Homo sapiens: one gene and its partners. The protein of the gene in region 1 purifies or fractionates together with the protein of each later gene. This does not show direct contact. Each region holds a gene or a part of one and is shown in the gene's direction. Other genes may lie near its edges.

Evidence for each region.
Region 2: the proteins of POGLUT1 (region 1) and CSGALNACT2 purify together in Homo sapiens (affinity purification with mass spectrometry; 4 studies listed by BioGRID and IntAct, with this or other methods). This does not show direct contact.
Region 3: the proteins of POGLUT1 (region 1) and ZZEF1 purify together in Homo sapiens (affinity purification with mass spectrometry; 3 studies listed by BioGRID and IntAct, with this or other methods). This does not show direct contact.

The regions. Positions count from the first base shown.
Region 1 is NC_000003.12:119,464,512-119,472,104, forward strand, and holds the start of POGLUT1 (protein O-glucosyltransferase 1 precursor), read left to right. Parts: upstream 1-4,451; 5' UTR 4,452-4,510; coding exon 4,511-4,595; intron 4,596-5,308; coding exon 5,309-5,399; intron 5,400-6,797; coding exon 6,798-6,941; intron 6,942-7,593. UniProt on the Homo sapiens protein: Dual specificity glycosyltransferase that catalyzes the transfer of glucose and xylose from UDP-glucose and UDP-xylose, respectively, to a serine residue found in the consensus sequence of C-X-S-X-P-C.
Region 2 is NC_000010.11:43,176,173-43,183,444, forward strand, and holds part of CSGALNACT2 (chondroitin sulfate N-acetylgalactosaminyltransferase 2), read left to right. Parts: intron 1-7,077; coding exon 7,078-7,272. UniProt on the Homo sapiens protein: Transfers 1,4-N-acetylgalactosamine (GalNAc) from UDP-GalNAc to the non-reducing end of glucuronic acid (GlcUA). Required for addition of the first GalNAc to the core tetrasaccharide linker and for elongation of chondroitin chains.
Region 3 is NC_000017.11:4,014,031-4,021,302, reverse strand, and holds part of ZZEF1 (zinc finger ZZ-type and EF-hand domain-containing protein 1), read left to right. Parts: coding exon 1-174; intron 175-1,533; coding exon 1,534-1,634; intron 1,635-3,331; coding exon 3,332-3,467; intron 3,468-3,572; coding exon 3,573-3,932; intron 3,933-4,528; exon of another isoform or gene 4,529-4,670; intron 4,671-4,836; coding exon 4,837-4,980; intron 4,981-6,787; coding exon 6,788-6,956; intron 6,957-7,114; coding exon 7,115-7,213; intron 7,214-7,272. UniProt on the Homo sapiens protein: Histone H3 reader which may act as a transcriptional coactivator for KLF6 and KLF9 transcription factors.

The DNA.
Region 1 (7,593 bases):
AGCTTTACACATTTCATTTAAATCTCACATTTTGATAGCTTCTACTATGGTTATTATTTTACAGAAGAAACTGAAGTTAAGAGAAGTTAAGTAGCTTGTTGAAAATAGCCTGCCTGGCCAGGCAGGGTGGCTCATGACTGTAATTCCAACACTGGGAGGCCAAGGCAGGAGGATCACTTGAGCCCAAGAGTTTGAGACCACCCTGAGCAATATAGTGGAACCTTGTCTCTATGAAAAAAGTAAAAAAATAAATCGGGCATGGTGGCTCACACCTGTAGTCCCAGCTACTTGGGAGGCTGAGGTGGGAGGATCACTTGAGCCCTGGAGGTCAAGTTTGCAGTGAGCCGAGATTGTGCCACTGCACTCCAGCCTGGGCAACAGAGAGAGACCCTGTCTCAAAAATAATAATAATAATAATAGAAAAAAAAGAAAATAGCCTGGCTAATAAGAGCCAGAACCAGAATTTAGAGCCAGAATGACTGATATCGAAACCAGTAAAGTTGCTAATATTCCCAAATATTCCTAATGTCCTAATGTACCACAGAGCTGTCACTTAGGAATACACACAAGTCTCCAACTTAGGATGGTTTGACTCACAATTTTTCAACTTTATGATGGTGCAAAACCAACACTCATTCAGTAGAAACTGTACTTCCAGTACTCGTACAACCATTCTGGTTTTTTTTTCATTTTTAAATACAGTCATGTGTCCCATAATGATGTTTCAATGAAAGACCACATAAATGATGGTGAGCCCATGAGAGTATAATAAAACTGAAAAACTCCTATTGCCTAATGATGTAGCTGTCTTTATGTTGTAGTGCAATGTATCCTGGTGTACACAAACCTGCACTACCAGTTGTATAAAAGTATAGCACATACAATTATGTACAGTATAACATACTAAATAATGATAATAAATTACTTTGTTACTGGTTTATATATTTACTATACTATACATTTATTGTTATTTTAGATTGTACTCCTTCTACTTATTTTAAAAAAATGAAAGTTAACTGTAAAACAACCTCAGGCAGGTCTTTCAGAAGGTATTCCAGAAGAAGGCATTGTTATCCTAGGAGATGGCAGTTCCATGTGTGTTCTTGACCCTGAAGATCTTCCAGAGGGACAAGATGTGGAGGTGAAAGATGGTGATATTGATGATCCTGACCCTGCATAGGCCTGACCCAAACACACACGTGTGTGTTTGCATATTAGTTTTCAATAAAATAGTTTAAAAAGTAAAAAACAAAATAAAACATTTTAGAAATAGAAAAAAGCTTATAGAATAAAGATAGAAATAAAGAAAATAGGTCGGATGCAGTGGCTCATGCCTATAATCCCCACACTTTGGGAGGCCAGGAGTTTGACAGCAGCCTGGCCAACATGGCGAAACCCTGTCTCTACTAAAAATACAAAAATTAGCCAGGTGTTATGGTGTACACCTGTAATGCCAGCTACTCAGGAGGCTGAGGCACGAGAATTGCTTGAACCTGGGAGGCAGAGGTTGCAGTCAGCTGAGATAGCACCACTGCACTCTAGCCTGGGCAACAAAGCGAGACTGTCTCAAAAAAAAAAAAAGAAAAGAAAAGAAAGGAGGGAGGGAGGGAGGAAGGAAGGAAAAGAAAGAAAGAAAAAATATTTTTGTATGGCTGTACAATGTGCTTGTGTTTTAAGCTAAGTGTTATTACAAAGTCAAAAAGTTGAAAAAAAAAGGTTTGTACAGTAAAAAAGTTACAATAAGCTAATTTATTACTGAAGAAAGAAAAACGTGTTTATAAGTTTAGTATGGTCTAACTGTACAGTGTTTATAAAATCTATAGTAGCGTAATGTTCTAGGTGTTCACATTTACTCACCACTCACTGACTTATCCAGAGCAACTTTCAGTCCTGCAAGCTCCATTCATGGTAAGTGCCTTATACAGGTGTATCATTTTTACTCATTTACTGTACCTTTTCAATGTTTAGATACACCAATACTTACCATTGTGTTACAATTGCCTGTAATATTCAGTACAGTAACATGCTGAATAGGTTTGTAGCCTAGGAGCAATAGGCTATGCCAAATATCCTCAGTATGTAGTAGGCTATACTAGCTAGGTTTGTGTAAGTATAATCTATGATGTTCACACAACAAAATTGCCTGACACATTTCTCAAAACATATTCCCATTGTCAAACAACACATGACTGTACTGCACACCTTCCTGGAAGTAGAAAAATTTTTGACTAAAGTTTCATTTGGATTCCAGAAGAAATATGCTATAGTTTTGGATATACATTTTTTTTCCTGTCTGTTCACCCAAAGTGAGCCTCACTCATACAAAAACTGGGTGGTTCTGCCCTGGTGGAATATAGACCAAATGCCCATATGGGTGTAATATGTGACCGATACGGCCCATTCCTAGGTAATCAACATTATTTTCTCTTCCACCATTCCTTAACGTGCATCCTAAAGCCTCCACTACTGTCAAGCTAAATTTGATCCCCACCTTCTGCAAATTATGGCTCCCATATTTTTAGTGACTCCAGCACAATATTCCTTAACTGTAACGTTTCCTTTTCTTCAGTACAAAATATACCCCTCCTACCCCTTTCTCCAGATTTCCACTTCATATTGATCTTTTCCTCCACTGAAACCAGTGGCACTTAACTATTGCCTTAAATTGTAAACTATCTCTAAGGAAGCATATTTGTCTTCCCTACTAGTTCTAAACTCCTGGGAGCACAGATTTGATCTTGTACTTCCCTGTATTTCCATATTTCCACAAGGCTTAGGGATATAACCATGTACATTTTAGAAAATAGATAAATATTGCTGGGCGCAGTGGCTCACGCCTGCAATCCCAGCACTTTGGGAGGTCGAGGCTGGTGGATCACCGGAGGTCGGGAGTTCGAGACCAGCCTGACAAATATGGAGAAACCCCATCTCTACTAAAAATACAAAATTAGCCGGGTGTGGTGGCGCAAGCCTGTAATCCACCTACTCAGGAGGCTGAGGCAGGAGAATTGCTTGAACCCAGGAGGCGGAGGTTGTGGTGAGCCGATATTGAACCATTGCACTCCAGCCTGGGCAACAAGAGCGAAACTCCATCTCAAAAAAAAAAAAAAAAAAGAAAATAGATAAATATTTGTAGTTCTATGATTACTAAATATATCTACACTGACCTATATATACCTGTATAAAGATATATACCTGTACTATACTATATACCTATATTGTCCAGTATCATGTTGCCCACTGTCAAGAAACAAAATTTCATCAAATTTAGTTTAAAGTTCTTGGCCAGGCATGGTGGCTCACGCCTGTAATCCCAGCACTTTGGGAGGCCGAGGTGGGCAGATCACCTGAGGTCAGGAGTTTGAGACCAACCTGGCCAACACGGTGAAACCCTGTCTTTACTAAAAATACAAAAATTACCCGGGCATGGTGACACACTCCTGTAATCCCAGCTACTCGGGAGACTGAGACAGAAGAATTGCTTGAACCCGGGAGGCAGACGTCATAGTGAGCCAAGATTGTGCCACTGCACTCCAGGCTGGGCAACAGAGTTAGACTGTCCTCTGTCTCAAAAAAAAAAAAAAATCGAATTGGCTTTTATTAGTGATTCATGAATCAGGCAGCATCTCATCTATAAAACAGAAAAGTGTTCTAATGAGCTGAGCAGAAGGGGTTGGGCTTATAGGCAGAAAAGGGCTGAAGAAAGCAGAAATAAGGAACAAAAAGCAGATTGGTCATTTTGAAGTTACTTTCCTCAAAGAGTTACATCAGAGGGGACTTCTTTATCATGCCAGCTCAGGTATATGGGCCCCTTCTCCTATTTGTTGGAAAACTGACCCCTTTTAAAGCTGAGTTTAATTACGCAGCACCTAGGACAAGTTGCCTCCATTCTGGTTTTGTCTGCTCTCTTGAGGCCTAGTGCCAGAGTTCTGTCCAAAACAACGACCTCCCATAAACTTTATTTAACACCATTGATCTTTTTTCCTACGTCTAAGTCACCCCAACTGTTATAAATTCCTATTACAAAGGGATCCCTGCTATGCTAATTGCAACCTTTGGGGTCTAACCGTGCTGTACACACACACACACACACACACACACACACACACACATGCTCAACAAATTTATGCTATTTGATAAGAGGCAATTTGACGTCAAGAGAAGAACTGTTTGGCCTAGGCTCTATGCCAAGTCTTGGTTGTGCCACTAACCGTGAAACATACCCTCTCTGACCTTCAGTTTTCTGGCTGCAGACCTATTTTCCCAGGGGTGCCAGGGAGGGAGGATAGGCAACTGGTCCATTCGTTTATCCTCCCCACCTTCCCGGCGCAGCCTTCTCAGGGAAACTCCGCCTCAAGGCTGGGGACTGGAGGAAGGGTGGTGGGGCCACGGTGGCCATCTTTGTGCGGGGCGACCCGCCGCCCACGTGCTGCGGCTCCCGGGCCATCTTTGTGCGGGGCCGCGCTTCCGCCAGCGCCGCAGCGGGGAATCTGCAGTAGGTCTGCCGGCGATGGAGTGGTGGGCTAGCTCGCCGCTTCGGCTCTGGCTGCTGTTGTTCCTCCTGCCCTCAGCGCAGGGCCGCCAGAAGGAGTCAGGTGGGCTCCGGGCAGTGCCGAGCCTGCCCCTTGGGCTCGGGGTCTGGCCGGAGTCCCGAGGCGCTCCCCCGCGCGGCCGGCTCCCGGGAAGATGCCGTGGCCGCTGTAGCTCGGAGCTGGGCAGAAGGCACCGGGGCGCCTTGCGGCGGAGAGTGAGGTGCCGGGGTCTCTGCTCCTGCTCTGGACCCTGGAGAGTAACCCATTCCCCGGAATTCAGAATGACAGGGAGGAGAGGGAATTCCCCGTTCACCCGCAGGAGGCGTGGCCCGTGCTTGGCTACTCTGGACCTGCCTGAAACACTGAGGGGTCGGGGATGGGGGCAAATGTCGTGCGCGCGAGCGTGTGTGTATATGCGTTGCCAGAAGAGAAGAGGGGTTTAATGTCTGTAGCTTTTAACTGATCCTCTTTGTGGAGTTCAATTTGATTAGTAGAAAGTGAGAGTCCGCGTCACTATCCATAGCATTCTGAGGGTTGAGCATTAAGCTTGGGAATTTTCCAGTTTCTTGGACACCTGACAGCCGGATAGAGGAACAGACTTGACGTGAGCGTGGGAGTTGCACACACAAAAATTCCTCCCTAGCGTTTCGTTTCCATCAGTGGGATGGGAAGGGGATTTCTGAAAGTTTTGGTCTTCTGTTTCTTCTGTTGGTGTGGTGTCAGCAAATAACATTCAGGAAAATTTTTTTAACTCTCATTTACTTCACTTTTTAAAGGTTCAAAATGGAAAGTATTTATTGACCAAATTAACAGGTCTTTGGAGAATTACGAACCATGTTCAAGTCAAAACTGCAGCTGCTACCATGGGTGAGTTCTTTTCTTTGATGTGTCTTTGAGAGTTTAGTTGCTGTCACAGGAAGTATTCTAACATCCTTGAGAGATTTTGGTTGCAGTGGTCAGAAAGGCAAGGATGTTTTTCTATTTCTGGGGAATAAAAATGCTCTCGCATGGGAAAGGCTCAGGTGGTGTCAACCTAACCACTGACTCACTGCGGGATTCAGTGCATGTGCATCTGTTTTTCCCACTGGGCTGCAAGCTTCCTGAGGTCAGGGTCTGTGTCTTATTTGCTGTTGTCTCCCTGGTGCTAGCTGTCAGTGCGTGCTCGATAAATATTGTTGAGGAAATAAACCCATCTATCGCTGAATCTAGTCCTAAATTTCCTGATGGTTATCTTTAGAAAATGCACATCAGGCTGGGCATGGTGGTTCATGCCTGTAATCCCAGCACTTTGAGAGGCCAAGGCAGGTGGATCACCTGAGGTCAGAATTTCGAGACCAGCCTGGCCAACATGGTGAAACCCTGTCTCTACTAAAAATACAAAAATTAGCTGGGCATGATGGCACGTGCCTGTAATCCCAGCTACTCGGGAGGCTGAGGCAGGAGAATCGCTTGAACCCGGGAAGCAGAGGTTGCATTGAATCCAGATCATGCCACTGCACCCCAGCCTGGGTGACAGAGTGAGACTCCGTCTCAAAAAAGAGAGAGAATGCACATCAGGGCCGGGATGAGGTATGGTAGAAAGATAACTCTGAAAACAGACTTGGGTGTTGGTGCCGGTACTCCCACTGGTTACCCCTGTGCCGAGCCACTTCAACTCCTCTGGGTCTCAGATTCTTCATCAGCTAAATAACAGGGTCTTTTAAGCTCCTTTTTATGTTATTTTTGACTCCTCAAAAAATTCCTTGGATGCTTATGATACTTATTGAAAACTTACTATGCACTCACTTTAAAAGGAATACAAAATAGTGTAATTTTGGTTACTGCTGTCACGCTACCAGAGTAAGGGCTTGTGGGGGAGAGTGTGGACCAGACAGACCAGAACAAGAGAGTCAGTGCTAGACTGTAAGGCGTAAACTTCACCTCCTGTGGGATTGGGAGGAGATGCCAGGAGGACTGAAGTGACTAGAAGGACACAGGTGTGGCATGAGTAGCGAAAGAGAAATACAGAACTGCCAAGGGAGGGGCAATCCAGATGGAAGGAGGAAGAAGAGACATTGACCCGCTTTTTACTTTTTATTGCTTTATTGCATTTGATGTTTCAGATTACCTACAGGGCTTCTAGGGAAGAGCTGCTCATTCTCACTCTCGATTCTTTCCTTCCACTTACTGTGTTCTCTAATACGAAACCTAAATGCACTTAGGAAGTAGGTGGAATGGCACCACTCTCTTGGCCTGCTTTCCTTGATGACTCCCATTCTTTCCCAGTGTCATAGAAGAGGATCTAACTCCTTTCCGAGGAGGCATCTCCAGGAAGATGATGGCAGAGGTAGTCAGACGGAAGCTAGGGACCCACTATCAGATCACTAAGAACAGACTGTACCGGGAAAATGACTGCATGTTCCCCTCAAGGTAAGAGTTAACGAGGTAGATATATCTTCTGACTTTATTACATATGGGCTTGATACCCTTTTATAGAGGAGCCAATTCATGGGACTAACAAGCAGATCCCTCCTCACATTTCAGGCGGACTATGAAATAGTGACGAGCTCTTCTCCTTGCCTGGGAATTTTTCTTGCGAGCTCCTCTCAAAGCCTGTCTCCTCTGTGAGGCTTGGTTCATCACTGGTTGTACTGGTGGTGGCTCTGCCTCTTCTGCTCCTTCCCTGGGATATAGTAGCGGCAGGACACAGGCTGATGAGGCCTAGCAGGCCTAGCAGGAGGGAGCTAGGCTGAAGGAGGAAGAGGAATTGGTTGAATGTCTGTCATCGGCCAGTGTAGTTCTAGATACTGAATATTCAAGGGGAGGTGGTAGAGTCAAGAGGAGTAACTAGATGGGGTGGTGGTGGCTCACACCTGTGATCCCAGCACTTTGTGGTGGATTACTTGAGCCCAGGAGTTGGATTATGGCAAATAATCCGGCAGTGGCAAATAATACAACAGAGTGAGACCCTGTCTATTAAAAAATAAATAAATAAAGAGGAGTAACTAGTGCTGCAAATTACACTAGCCAGGACTTCAGAACTTCAGGTGTGAGACCTGAGGTACCATGTCAGTGGGCTGAA
Region 2 (7,272 bases), on another chromosome or scaffold:
AAAGGCAAAATAAGTTTATAATTAATGTTTTGAATAGGAAAAAAATGGTCATAAAAATAAAGTATAATATTTACTTGTTCCTTTAAAATCAAAACACCTGTTTTTAAAAATATCTGTTTAACTTGTTACCCATAGTTGCAGGTGTTTAGAGTAGTCTTACAAAAGCTTTCTCTATAACTTTACTGTTGTGCCCATGGGTTGTTACAGCTGGGAGTAATCTTGGTTATCTAGACCAAGGACTTTCACATTTTTTTGAGATGAAACCTCCTTTACTTGTCTAGTGAACTGTTACACAAAATCCCAGTATTTAATACAAATGAAAGAAGACCTGCTCTTTCTAGCGCGTCTTGGAATCACACCTTAGTCATGCATTCCCCTAAGCCTAAAGATGGCCCATGAATAATTTGTTCTAACTATCCTGCATGCTCTGTTGTCCAGGCTGAAGAGCAGTGGCACAATCTTGGCTCACTGCAGCCTCTGCCTCCCAGGCTCAAGCGATCCTCCTACCTCAATCCCCAAGTAGCTGTGACCACAGGCGTGCACCACCACACCCAGTTAATTTTTTTGTTTGTTTTGTAGAGGCGGAGCTTCATTATATTGCCTAGGCTGGTCTTGAACTCCTGGGTTCAAGCAATCTGCCCACCTTGGCCTCCCAAAGTGCTGGGATTGCAGGCGTGAGCCACCATGCCCAGCCCCTAGCTTCAGTCTTACCCAGCAAAATATAAAGTGTCAAAGAATAGTTTAATAAAGCAGGCTGAAACCTGATTCCATGTCTTCTGATTCATTTAGGGCTAGCTACCTTTCTACAGCATAGAAGTCATAGAATATATTTTATATACATTCTAGGTCCATATCACATTCGTTTTTATAACCAGCCTTTTGTTTTGGAAATCCCCCCACCTTGTCTCCTTATCATTGTAACACTTGAATAATGGAAAATCAGGAAATAACAATAAAAGGGGCGTTAAATTAAACTGATGCTCTTTTCCTTGATTTCTTGCTTAGTTAAGCAAGCAGCATTTCACTATTCCTCAAAAATAGATTTGTGTACATTTTTTCAGTATCTTGAATGCTTTGAGTTCCTTATCTCTTTTTTATGACAATTTTATTGAGATATAGTTTACATATCATAAAATTTATTAATTTAAAGTGTACGGTTAACCAGGTCATGTAGCTATCACCACCATCAAATTTAGAGCATTTCACCCCAAAAAGAAATCCCATACCCATTAACAATCACTCCTCACATCCTACCAACCCTCTTTCCCCCCAAACTTAGGCATCTACTGGTCTACTTCCTATAGATTTGCCTCTTCTGGGAATTTAATAGAAAGCAAATTGTACAATATGTGGCCTTTTATGACTGGCTTCTTTCACTCACATAATGTTTTCAAAGTTCATCCATGTTGTGACATGTTAGGTACTTCATTCCTTTTTATAGCCAAAAAATGTTCTATTGTGTGGTTATACCACATTTTGTTTCTCCATTTGTCAGTTTATATGCATTTGAGTTGTTTCTACTTTTTGGCTATTATAAATACTGCTGCTGTGAACATTTGTGTTTAACTTTTTGGGTGGACATAGATTTTCAATTCTCTTGGACATATGCCCAGGACTCTGGCTGGGTCATATGGTAATCCTGTGTTTGACCTTTTGAGAAATTGCCACACCGTTTTCCAAAGTGGCTGCATCATTTTACATTCCCACCAGCAGTGTTTAGGAGTTCCAGTTTCCCCACATCCTCATTAATACATGTTATTATCTTTTTGTTTCTAGTATCACCCATGATAGTGGATGTGGTATTGATTGTGACTCTGATTATAATTTTTCTTATGATTAATGTTGTTGAGCATCTCTTGATGTGTTTATTGGCCATTTGTATATCTTTAGTGAAATGTCTGTTCAGATCCTTTGCCCATTTTAATTGGGTTATGGAGTTTCTTGGGCTTCTTGAATATGTACATTAATGTTTTTCATCAAATTTGGGAAGTTTCAGCCATTATAGTCATCTCTCAGTACCTGCATGGGATTGGATCCAGGATACCATGTGGAACCAAAATCCATGGTCGATCAAGTCCCTTATGTAAATATACATATTTTCATATTACCTGTGCATATCTGCCCATATACTTTAAACCATCTCTAGATTGCTTATAATACCTAATACAGGCCAGGCACGGTGGCTCACGCCTGTAATCCCAGCACTTTGGGAGGCCGAGGCGGGCAGATCACGAGGTCAGGAGATCAAGATCATCCTGGCTAACAAGGTAAAACCCTGTCTCTACTAAAAATACAAAAATTAGCCAGGCGTGGTGGCAGGCGCCTGTAGTCCCAGCTACTTGGGAGGCTGAGGCAGGAGAATGGCATGAACCTGGGAGGCGGAGTTTGCAGTGAGCCGAGATTGCACCACTGCACTCCAGCCTGGGCAACAGAGTGAGACTCCATCAAAAAAAAAAAAAAAAAACCCTAATACAATGTAAATACTATGTAAATAGTTGTTATATTGTATTTAAATTTTTATATTTATTGTTATTTTTTATCGTTTTTTTCCCTAATATTTTTGAACCATGTTGGTTGATTCTATGGGATGTGGAACTCATGCATATGGAGGGCTGACTGTATTTCTTTGAATACTTTTTCTGCTCCATTCTCATAGTTTTCTCCTTTGACACTCACTGTATGTATGTTGGTACATTTAATGGTATCCCACATTTTTCTTAGGCTCTGTTTATTTCTCTTCATTCTTTTCTCCCTCTGTTCTTCAGATTGCATAATTTCTATTGATCTATCCAAGTTCTCTGATTGTTTTTTCTGTTAGATCTACTGTTGAGCTACTCTAATGAATTTTTATTTCAGTTACTATAGTTTTTAACTTCAGAATTTCTATGTGGTTCTTTTGATATATATATAATTTCTTTATTAATACTCTATGTGATGAAACATTGTCATCTTCTGTTACTTCCTTAAGTGTGACTTCTTTTAATTCTTTGAACATACTTACAATGGCTGCTTTGGAATTTTTGTGTATTAAAGCTAATGTCTGGGCCCTAACACAGGCAGTTTTTGTTGCTTGCCGGTTTTTTTTTTTTTTTTAAGCGTATGTCACATCTTCTTGTTTCTTTGCATTCCTCATTATTTCTTTTTCGAAAACTAGACATTTTAGGTAATACACTGTGGCAACTCTGGATACTGATTTCCCTCTACCACCACGGCTTGGTTTTTTTTTTTCCTTGTTTATTTATTTATTGACATGGCTGGACTATTTTAACAAATTATTTCTTCCTCCTTCCCCGACCTTTTGGCAATATGAAGCCTCTGCTGTTGCTCCTCAGGGCCTGTGCAGTTATCCTAGGATGGCATTGGATTTAGCAGGGCTCTCTTTATCTCTTTCCATGCCTCCATTGGTATCACTCCTATTAGACTCCACTGACTGTTCACTAATTGCTGTCTTGTTTTTGACAATGCTCTGGGGCATAAATTGCTCCATAATCTGTCCCTACTAAATTGGGCCCTTTTGCAGGGATAGTTTTTGCAGCAAGTCTTTGAGATTTGTTCAGACCCCAGGAGGTATATTCTTACTATCTCTCTCTGTGGTTCTCTCTAGTAAATTAGCTGGCCTACAGTTTAGCTGTTGCCCTCCTGGAGTTACCAGCCTCCTCTTAATTGCTTACTACCAAAATCTCCATTATTTTCAAGAGGCTGGAACTTCTCTAAACTCTGAACTTCTCTACATTCTATTTTAAATAAAGTCAGTTCCTTAGGGAAGAACTTTGGAGCACTTTGTTCTTATGGACTTCCTCTCCCCCGGGGGAAAAAATCCATGAGGTTTTGCCCTGAGGATGGGGACAGTGACACACTTATTAAGCAGAGTGACCACCTCTGCCCTATGAGCAGGACACTGGGTAGGGGCAGGAGGACCCCCAGTATTCTCAGCTGGCCACACCTGGAAGTGGAGCCTCCACCCTGTTGCTGTGGGCTGGGTGAAAAAGAGCTGCACCTGTTTAGAACTTAGACTCTTTATTTGGAGCTTCTGTTCCCTTGTTTCCTTTCTTCCTGGTATTCCCATTATACATATGTTACATCTTTTGTAGTTGTCCCACCGTTCTTAGATATTTTGTTCATTTTATTTTCAGTCTTTTTTTTTCTTTGATTTTCTGTTTTGGAAATTTTTATTGTCATATCCTCAAGCTCAGAGATTGTTTCTTAAGCTAAGTCCGGTCTACTAATGAACCCATCTAAGGCATTCATTTATTTCGCAGTGTTTTTGATCTCTAGCATTTTTTTAAATTCCTTAGATCCATCTCACTGCTTATGTTCCGCATCTTGTGTGTTATCTGCTCTTTCCATTAGAGCCCTTAGAGTATTATACATAGTTGTTTTAAATTCCCAGCCTGATAATTCCAACATCCCTGCTGTATCTGAATCTGGATCTGGTACATGCTCTGTCTGTTCATACTGTGTTTTTCTTAACTTTTAGTATACCTTGTCATGTTTTCTGTTGAAAGTTGGACTTGATATACTGCGTAAAAGGAACTGCAATAAATAGGCCTTTGATGATGTGGTGGTGAAGTGTGGAGGGAGCGGAAGTGTTCTGTAGTCCCATAAGTAAGTCTCAATCTCTTAGTGATCCTGTATCCCAGACTCTGAATTTCACACATGCTTCTCAGTCTCCCCTCCTCTCCTGGACAGGATGACTAGAAGGGGCTCTAGTTGGGTAGATTTCTTCCTCCAAGTCAGTTAGGCACTGATAAAACCCCAGCAGGTTAGGCTCTGGTTAAATAACTTCTCCTAAGGACAGGCTTTGTTAATAATGACAACATGCTGTGGCATACTTTAAAATGATTACCTTTTCCCCTTCCCCACTGCTGGACGCATTAAGAGATTTTTCTCTGATCTTCACCACTGAGGACCTAATAGAGCTCCTAGAGGTAAAACTCACATGAGTATGGGGGTCCCAATATGACCAGGTCCCCCTGGAGTTTTTAACACTCAGACTTACCTCCCCTGAGCCTCCAGCAATTTGTCGATTACAGTTAGGGTTTTCCTACCTGGGTACTGGTCCCCACAGAGATTTCTGCTCCAGTAAGTTGGAATTCTTTGTATCTGCCTATCTGTCTCACCAGTTTTGAGGGCAGTGGTTTACCCTGTGACCTCACTTCTCTGTGAGAGACCTAAGAGGAGTTGTTGCTTTTTCAGTGTTCAGCTTTTGACTTGTTAGGATGGAGTGATGACTTCTAGCTCCAGGCATGCCAGACCAGAAACTGAGAATGCCCCATTTGTTTTAAGTATATGTACCATCTCTAATATTCTAAGAGCTTATATCTACAAGGAAGAAAAGCTGATATGTATCAGACATAGCATTTAGTAAAGCTCTGATTGTTTAATACTTTTCAGAGATCCCCAGATTATTGTCCATCCTGTTAATGTGAAATTAAGTGGGATAGAATTATTTGACAGGAGCCGGGCATGGTGGCTCGAACTTGTGGTCCCACTTACTAAGGAGGCTAAGGCAGAAGGATCACTTGAGCCCAGGAGATGGAGGCTGCAGTGAGCTATGATTGCACCTCTGCACTCCAGCCTGGGCAACAGAGTGAGAACACATCTCTGAAAAATAAAAATTATTTGACAGGCCAGGCACGGTGGCTCACGCCTGTAATCCCAGCACTTTGGGAGGCCGAAGTGAGTGGATCATCTGAGGTCAGGAGTTCAAGCTTACGAAGATGACGGGATTAAGAGATTAAAGTAAAGACAGGCAATCACAAGGGTATTGATTGGGGAAGTGATAAATGTCCATGAAATCTTCACAATTTATGTTCAGAGATTGCAGTAAAGACAGGAGTAAGAAATTATAAAAGTATTAATTTGGGGAACTAATAAATGTCCATGAAATCTTCACAATTTATGTTCTTCTGCCATGGCTTCAGCCAGTCCCTCCATTCGGGGTCCCTGACTTCCTGCAGCAGCCCACTCCAGTTAGCCTTCTGCCCCATCACTCTATCAGAATTGTTCTGGGGAAGTTTATAAGTAACATTTATGCTGCCAGGTCCAGTCAGTTCTTCTTAAATTCTTCACTGAATAGCACACACTTGACAACTTCTTCCTCAAGACACTTTCTTCACGTGGCTACTACAATGGCACCTTTTCCAGAATTTTCTCCCTCACCTGGGGCCACTTCTCAATCTCATTTCCTGACTTAACTTTCTTTACCTCTATTTAACCTCTAGAAATTGGCATTTCTTAGTGTTTAGACCTAGGCCCTGTTTTCCTTCCAAATTCCTTCAGTAATTTCATTCATTCCTGTAGCTTTAAATAATCTATGGACCCATTCTCAAATTTATATCTCCAGCTTGGCCCTTTCTTCTTTTTCCACTCTGGGGAGTTTTTCTATAGCCCAGAAAAGCGTGTGTCTCAAAGGACAGAAAATGTGGCTGGTCGCAGTGGCTAATGCCTGCAATCCAGCACTTTGGGAAGCCAAGTGGGCGGAACACTTGAACCCAAAGTTCGAGACCAGCCTGGGCAACATGGTGATACCCCATCTCCACCAAAAAAAAAAAAAAAGCTGAGTATGGTGACATGCGCCTGTGGTCCCAGCTACTCGGGGCTGAGATGGGAGGATCGCCTGAGCCACGGAGGTCGATGCTGCAGTGAGCCATGATCACACCACTGCACTCCAGCCTGGGTGACAGAGTGAGACCCTGTCTCAAAAAAAAAAACAAAAAAAAAAAGAAAACATAAAAAGTTAATGGTGGTGAGATTATAGGTGACTTGTATTTTCTTCTCCTTTATTTGACTTTTTGTAGATTTTCTACAGGACTTTGAAATTTACAAAGTGTTCTTAAATATTTAACCCCATTTTGATACTGTCAACAACCAACCTTGAGCTCCTTGAGTCCAAGTGTCAGCTCAAAACTGGACTTCCGGTGACTGGGAGTCACTCCTCCATGCCAGGTGTCTCGTGCTACCTTTTTGCTGAACCATCCCATCCCTTTTGAAGCAGAACATTTAAAATTTTATATATATCCCTGTGCTCTGGCTAATAATAGGCAGTTATTTATAGTGTCAATTTTGATCTTACAGGTGGATTTGACATGGAAGTGAAAGGTTGGGGTGGAGAAGATGTTCATCTTTATCGAAAATACTTACATGGTGACCTCATTGTGATTCGGACTCCGGTTCCTGGTCTTTTCCACCTCTGGCATGAAAAGCGCTGTGCTGATGAGCTGACCCCCGAGCAGTACCGCATGTGCATCCAGTCTAAAGCCATGAATGAGG
Region 3 (7,272 bases), on another chromosome or scaffold:
TACTCCTCAAAAAAGGAGATCAACGCTTTGGCTGAGCACGGAGACCTAGAGCTGGATGAGCGAGGGGACCGAGAGGAAGAGGTGGAACGGCCAGTCAGCAGCCCTGGCGACCCAGAGCAGAAAAAGCTGGACCCCCTTGAGGGCCTGGATGAGCCCACCAGAATATGTTTCTTGGTGTGTTCTTGAGTCATCTTGTGGCTTAGGAGGGGCTTCTGAGGGATGGCTTCTCTTTGGCCCGGGCCATGTTTTAGCCTAAACATGAAAATGCTTCTGTCTGCTGTCCTGAGAATTCACTTCCTAAAGACTCAGTCTTATGTTGTGCAGAATTGATCCAGAAGAACAGAAAAGCCCCACAACAATAGTTCTTAATATTTTGGGTTATAAACTCAAAAGCTTTAGGTCCTCTCTCCCCATAAAATACACATTCAAACATGTATGTAAAATTTTGCACGAATTTCAAGGGCTTACTAAAGCCCTAAGGCTCGTCCATGAACTCTATACGATAGTTCCTTCCTCATAGTTTCTCAGAAATACACTCTTACCTTTACTAGGTAATCTATTCTTCCTCAGAACAATATGAAAAGGATGAGGGCTTGGACTTCAGAAGTTGTGACTAAATGAAGAGTAAACAGAATGTAGCGTAGAATGTCAGAAAAAGCAAATCCCAGCCAGGCACAGTGGCTCACACTAGTAATCCCAGCACTTTGGGAGGCTGAGGCAGGAGGATCACTTGAGGCCAGGAGTTCAAGACCACCCTGGGTAACTTAGCAAGACCCTGCCTCTACAAAAAATAAGACTAGCCAGGTGTGGCATGCGCCTGTAGTCCTGGCTACCCAGGAGGCTGAGGCAGGAGGATCACTTGAGGCCAGGAGTTCAAGTTTACAGATTTTGCAGGAGAGTTTGCATCCCCTGGCACAGAGCATACATGCAATTCTGTATCCATGAATAAGTAAAAGCTATGAATCCAGTTGGCAAAATACAGAAAATGATGATGTCATTGATACTAACAGAAAAACTACTTTGATCAACATTGCTGACAAGTTTAAGTGCAGGTTAAAACTCCTCTTGCCTTTCTACGCTTTTGGGTACTCAGTGGTATGAGCTATGATCACACCACTGCACTCCAGCCTGGGCAACCAAGTGAGACCCTGTGTCAAAAAAAATCAAAAGAAAATACAGTGCCTATGTATGCGCTAGTTGTCAAACTTGAGTGTAAAACAGTTATAGAGACGCTAGCCGTGAATACGATGTGGTAAGTATCTACTGTCAGCATTGTATTTTGTTGACAGGATATTTCTTTGGGGTTTTAGTGTTTTATAATTTCCTTTGAAGTTACAGTCGTAGTGTAGGTGTTATAGTCCATGTTTTGGTGCTTACAATTTTATATGCTTTTTAAACTACCCATATAATGTTCCTCAATTATAACCTGTGGCAGCTTTTGCTATATTGTCTTCTCAGTTTTGAGTTCAGTTGATCAATACCGTATTGAAGCACTGTTAATGGTTCTTGTCTGCGTCCTCCCCTGGCCTCCAGATGGCTCATGATGCCCTCAATGCCCCTCTGCACATTCTCCGGGCCATATACGAACTGCAGATGAAAAAGACCGATTATTTCTTCCTGGAGGTTCAGAAGAGGTAAGGGACATTTCCGTGCAGCTGAAGTGTGGCCAGGGAGAGAATATGTGAGGGCGGGAGGGTGTGCGCCTCCTGGCAGCAGCTTCTGGATCGATCGACGCTCCGACAGGCCGGGAAGCAGTTGCTAGTCCTTTGTAAGGCGAGGTGGGAGGTGGCCTGTGCTACGTTACCTGGATCATCTTCAAAGTGCACTGTGGTTCCTCTTTAAAACTTATGTTTGTAGTCGGCCTCTGAGAGGAAACTCATTTTACAGACACAGAAATTGGGCAGGCACCAAGATGTCTCTCATGTGTAATCCCAGGGAGCAGACAGCACAGAGCAGGAACTTCTGCTCAAGATATTTTTAAAATTAAGAACATTCCCTTTCTCTTGGCCAGGAAGTTCAGAGCTAGTTTTTGGGCCCAACTTTTTAATTTGCGTAGAACTTTACATATCTGCAATCCAGTCTCCTCCATCCCCCGTATCCTAATTTTGACTTCTTACTCATTGTAAATTCTCATTTAATTTTTCTTTTATTTTGTGTTTCGTGTTTCTCTTTTATTAGTTTCTTATATATTGCCTAAAAGCCTTTATGAGGTGAAGCAGGGTTGCATTAGTTAGGGTACAGTCTAAGCTGCGGTAACTAAGAAACCAGAAATATAATGGATCAGGGCAGATAGAATTTGTTTTTCTCTCACATAACAGTCCAGAGGTAGGCAGAGTCTGGGGTGGGTGACAGCTCTGCTCCACAGAGGGACCCAGCAATCCCAGCGTTCTCATTTGTGGAGTGAAAGCTCCCTCGGCCACCCCACCTCTCGGTTCTAGCCCAGAGGAAAGAGGGGAGGTGGAGAAGGGAGTGCACCATTAGTCCAGTAGACTCCAGAGGTGGCACACCACCTCGCTCACCTGCACTGCCCAGAACCCAGGGGCATCAGCACATCTAGCTGCTAACCATGTCTCTAGCTGGGTGACTGTGGCTCTTGCTAAAACTCAGGGAGCTTTAGAGAGAGAGAAGGGCCACCGAGTTTCGGCCAGAGTCGTCCACCTGTTCAGACTGCGTTCAAATAAGGCAAACACCAGGCTGTAACCATTCCAGCTGTTTCTGTACCTCACTTCTGTTTTCTGTGTGTCAGTTTCCTTTTTCTGTTCGTAAACCTCCAACCACAGCAGTGGAGTCACTCTGAACCCATTCTGATTCAGGAGCTGCCCAATTCGGGGATCACTCTTTGCTCATTTAAACTCTGTTAAATTTAAAAAAAAAAGGAGAGAAGGGGAGTCCAGGCATGGTGGTATGAGCCTGTAATCGCAGCTACTAGGGAGGCTGAGGCAGGCAGGAGGATCGCTTGAGCCCAGGAGTTCCAGGCCGGCCCGGGCAACATAGCTCCAACACGTCATCTCTAAAAAAAACAAATAAATTTTTTTTAAAAATGTTTTTTTAATGAAAATAAAACATTTAAATTAATTTTAAAAATGGAAAAGATAGAAAAGGAGAATGGATTTTGCAGGAGAGTTTGCATCTCCTGCCACAGAGCATACATGCATTCTGTATCCATGCATAAGTGAAGGCTGTGAATCCAGTTGGCAAAACACGGAATATGATAATGTCATTGATACTAACAGAAGAACAACTCTGAAGAACATTGCCAACAAGTTTAAGTGCAGGTTAAAACTGGCCTGTCTACACTGTTGGTACTCAACTTTGTGCTGCCCTTCTGCAGGTTTGATGGTGATGAGCTCACCACAGATGAAAGGATACGGTCCCTGGCTCAGCGGTGGCAGCCCAGTAAGAGTCTGAGGCTGGAAGAACAGAGCGCCAAAGCTGTGGATACAGACATGATTATCCTGCCATGCTTGGTATGTCACCCGACCTCGGACCCAAAGTATCTGCACCCCATCCCCCACCCCATACCACCACTGTAAGAAGGCTAGACCTCTGTAATGGTGGTCTTGGGTTTGCAGTCCCGGCCTGCACGCTGTGACCAAGCCACTGCTGAATCGAACCCTGTGACCCAGAAGCTGATCTCCAGCACAGAGAGCGAACTGCAGCAGAGCTATGCCAAGCAGCGCCGTAGCAAGAGCGCCGCCCTCCTGCACAAGGAGCTGAACTGCAAGAGTAAGAGGGCTGTCCGGGACTACCTCTTCCGAGTGAACGAGGCCACAGCTGTCCTGTACGCCCGCCACGTGCTTGCATCCCTGCTCGCCGAGTGGCCTAGCCACGTGCCAGTGAGCGAGGACATCCTGGAGCTCAGTGGCCCTGCCCATATGACCTACATTTTGGATATGTTCATGCAGCTGGAAGAAAAGCATGAGTGGGAGAAGGTAGTTATGCAGACTGAGCTTGTGCTCACCCACCAGGTTCTTCCTCTGCCCCACAGGCTTCCTCCAGTGAGTGCTTCCTGGAGCGAGGCTACCTGTGTGGCTGTGCAGCTCCCTGACAGGTGTGAATGCAGCAAAGGTAGGGTCACTGTATCCTCTCCCAAGGATTGGGCTAGTGAGGAACTCAGGGGCCCTGAGCGCGATTTCCAGCTGAACCAGAAAGCTTTGTCGCCATCTTCCCAGTTTCCAAGTGCAGAAATCTTGAGGCACATTCGGTAGCTCCTTTTTGATCCTGTCCCTCACCCACCTTCACACACACACACGCAGTCCATGAGGAAGTTCATTTGGCCTCTCAGCCTTGCTTTGTCCATCTGAGAACACCACCAGACCTCGAGGTCTTTTCCCGGCCTTGCAGCCCTGCAGGTGCTGGCAGGCTTGCTCTAGCATATCTATCTTTCGGAAGGGACAGAGGGAGCCACCCTGCCTCTACTAGGCCCTTGCATAGGCGTGTCCTCCCACAGTTCTTGCCACCTAGAGCTCCCAACCCTGCACCTCACTCCAGGCATCGATTACATTGTGTGGTCATTATTTATCCATAGGCCAATCCACCTGCTTGGCTGGGGACTCCTTCAAGGACCAGGACCCTTTATGATTGGTTCAGTTAGTTCTTTCAGACCACCTCTAAGTAGCATCATTCTGAAAGGACTGCAGTGTCCTGATTGACACCAAGAGCCTGGTCAAGTGAGAGGTGGCTGGTGGAGTTGGTTTTGGGTGGTGGAGTCACAGAGGCTCGTCCTAGGTCTAAGATGATGCCAGCACCTTTGGGTGGAGCTTGGGTTGAAGTAAACTGTCCCTTCTTCCTGATGCCACTTGCAGGCCCTGACCTTATCTGTCTGCTTCCCACCAGATCCTGCAGAAAGTGCTCCAGGGCTGCCGAGAGGACATGCTGGGGACCATGGCCCTGGCTGCATGCCAGTTCATGGAGGAGCCAGGAATGGAGGTGCAAGTGAGGGAGTCGAAACACCCGTATAACAACAACACCAACTTCGAGGTAAGCCTGGGGCCGGCAGGCCCCATAAGAGCGACTGAGCCGCAGAGACCTCGTCAGCCCCTCCGTGCTCAGCCCCTCCATGCTCAGCCCCTCTGTGGCTCTCTCCCGCTGGACAGCAGAGACCTGTCCAGGAAAGTGCTTCCTTGAACAAACTGCAGTCTGCCTCCCTGAGGCCAGGGATTCTGTACAAGCAAGTCTTCTCTTCTCCGGACTTTTCTTGTTTTAATAGAAGAAAATGGGCCACCTAGCCCTGGAGGAGAGCTTTACTTTCCCTGCGGCAGGCTCCTCAGAGTGAGTCCTTGGCTTCACAGTGAGACAGTGAGTCTGAATGTGGTCCAGGTTGGACCCTCACTCTTCAGCTGCCACCTCATGACCTGCCCCCACCGTGGATACTACAGCCCCTTTTTAAAATTTCCCAGAACTGAATCAGAGTCTCATCTTTTCCATCCTTAACTTTGTGCCTGGGCAGGGAGGTAGGCATTTTGATGAGGCAGGAATGGGGCAGCCTCCGTTATTCTCATTGACTTAAGGCCATGTAGTCCCTTTAGCACTTTTTTTTGAGACGGAGTCTCACTCTGTCGCCCAGGCTGCAGTGCAGTGGTGTGATCTCGGCTCACTGCAACCTCCACCTCCCGAATTCAAGTGATTCTCATGCCTCAGCCTCCCTAGTAGCAGGAATAAAGGCACCTGCCACCATGCCCAGCTAATTTTTGTATTTTTAGTAGAGACGGGGTTTCACCATATTGGCCAGGCTGGTCTCTAACTCCTGACCTCAGGTGATCCACCCGCCTTGGCCTCCCAGAGTGCTGGGATTACAGGCGTGAGCCACCTCACCTGGCCCCCATTAGCGCTTTTAAAAATGTTGGAGAGAAAACTGAAATGTTGGAGTTGCCCAGGCATCTACTTCTGAGTGGAAGGCACCTGCAGCAGCGAAGGTGGATGATGAAAACCGATTTAGAACTGGGTTATTGGCCAGCTGAGATTTTGTTTTTCAGAAGTATAACCTGTCTTTCTTCCAAGTCTCTTCTCTTGTCATGTTCCTGGGCTCCAGCCCCACTCCCTTGGTCCCATACAGGCACATGTGGTCAGCCACCAGGTTCGATCCCAAAGAGGTCTTGTCTTCTCCACTGACCCTGGACACCCGTTGCCCTTCTCTGGGGTTCCTTTTGCTGCTACTTTCTGATTTCCTCACTTTTGCCTCAGCCCAGCCTTGCTCCACACCAGCTGTCAGTGATGCTACACTGTGCAAGCCTCACCAAAGCTTTCCAGGGTTTTCCCTGTTGTCCAGAGTCTGAGTGCCTCATTTTCATGCCCAGGGCCTTCAGTGTCTGCCCCTGCCAGTCTCTCTGGAGTCAGGTCTTGTCCCTGTTCCTGCTTCCCAAGCATACGTGCCCATGTAGCACACCCTTTACTCCAAACACGCCAAGCTCCTTGCCATTCCCTGAACATGCTAGACCTTCACAGGGCTGTTACCCTGTCTGAAATGCACCCCATGCACTCAGGTCCACCTTGTCTCCCACTCCCGCCTTCTCCTAACAGGGTCCTCCTGTCCTCTTCACTCTTCACAGCAGCCTGACACTCTTTCTCTGGGGCCCCGTGTTGCCTGCCCCGCTGTGCCTCCCTCGCACCATATTTGCAGTCTGTGCATGCTCCTCGCCCTAGCTGGACTCTGCACTCCTGGAGGCCAGGGCTGTGGTTCACTCATTCTCACACACCCGGGTCCAGCCACAGGACTCGGCATGGGACAGCTGCAGTCAGTGTCTAGTGAGCAGCATCGACAGATGTGTTCTCCATTTCCCCTCCCTAGGATAAAGTTCACATTCCTGGTGCCATCTACCTCTCAATCAAATTCGACTCTCAGTGCAACACAGAGGAGGGCTGTGACGAGTTAGCCATGTCCAGCAGCAGTGACTTCCAGCAAGACCGACACAGCTTCAGCGGGTCTCAGCAGAAGTGGAAAGATTTTGAACTTCCAGGTAGTGAAACAAATACTCGATTAGATAGGTTCTTCACAGGCAGTGTTTAAACTTAATATTGAGAAGGGAACTTACTGGAGAATGTTGAAACCCAACACCACTGCTGCCATTCCCTGTTGCTTCAGTTCCTGATGGGCCTCTGATCCTTGTGTGCCTAGGAGACACTCTGTATTACCGCTTCACCTCCGACATGAGCAACACCGAGTGGGGCTACAGATTCACCGTGACGGCCGGACACCTGGGGCGGTTCCAGACAGGTGTGTGCTCTGGGCTTTGCGTTCACACCATCTGCCTGCCAGGGACACTCCATGGCTGT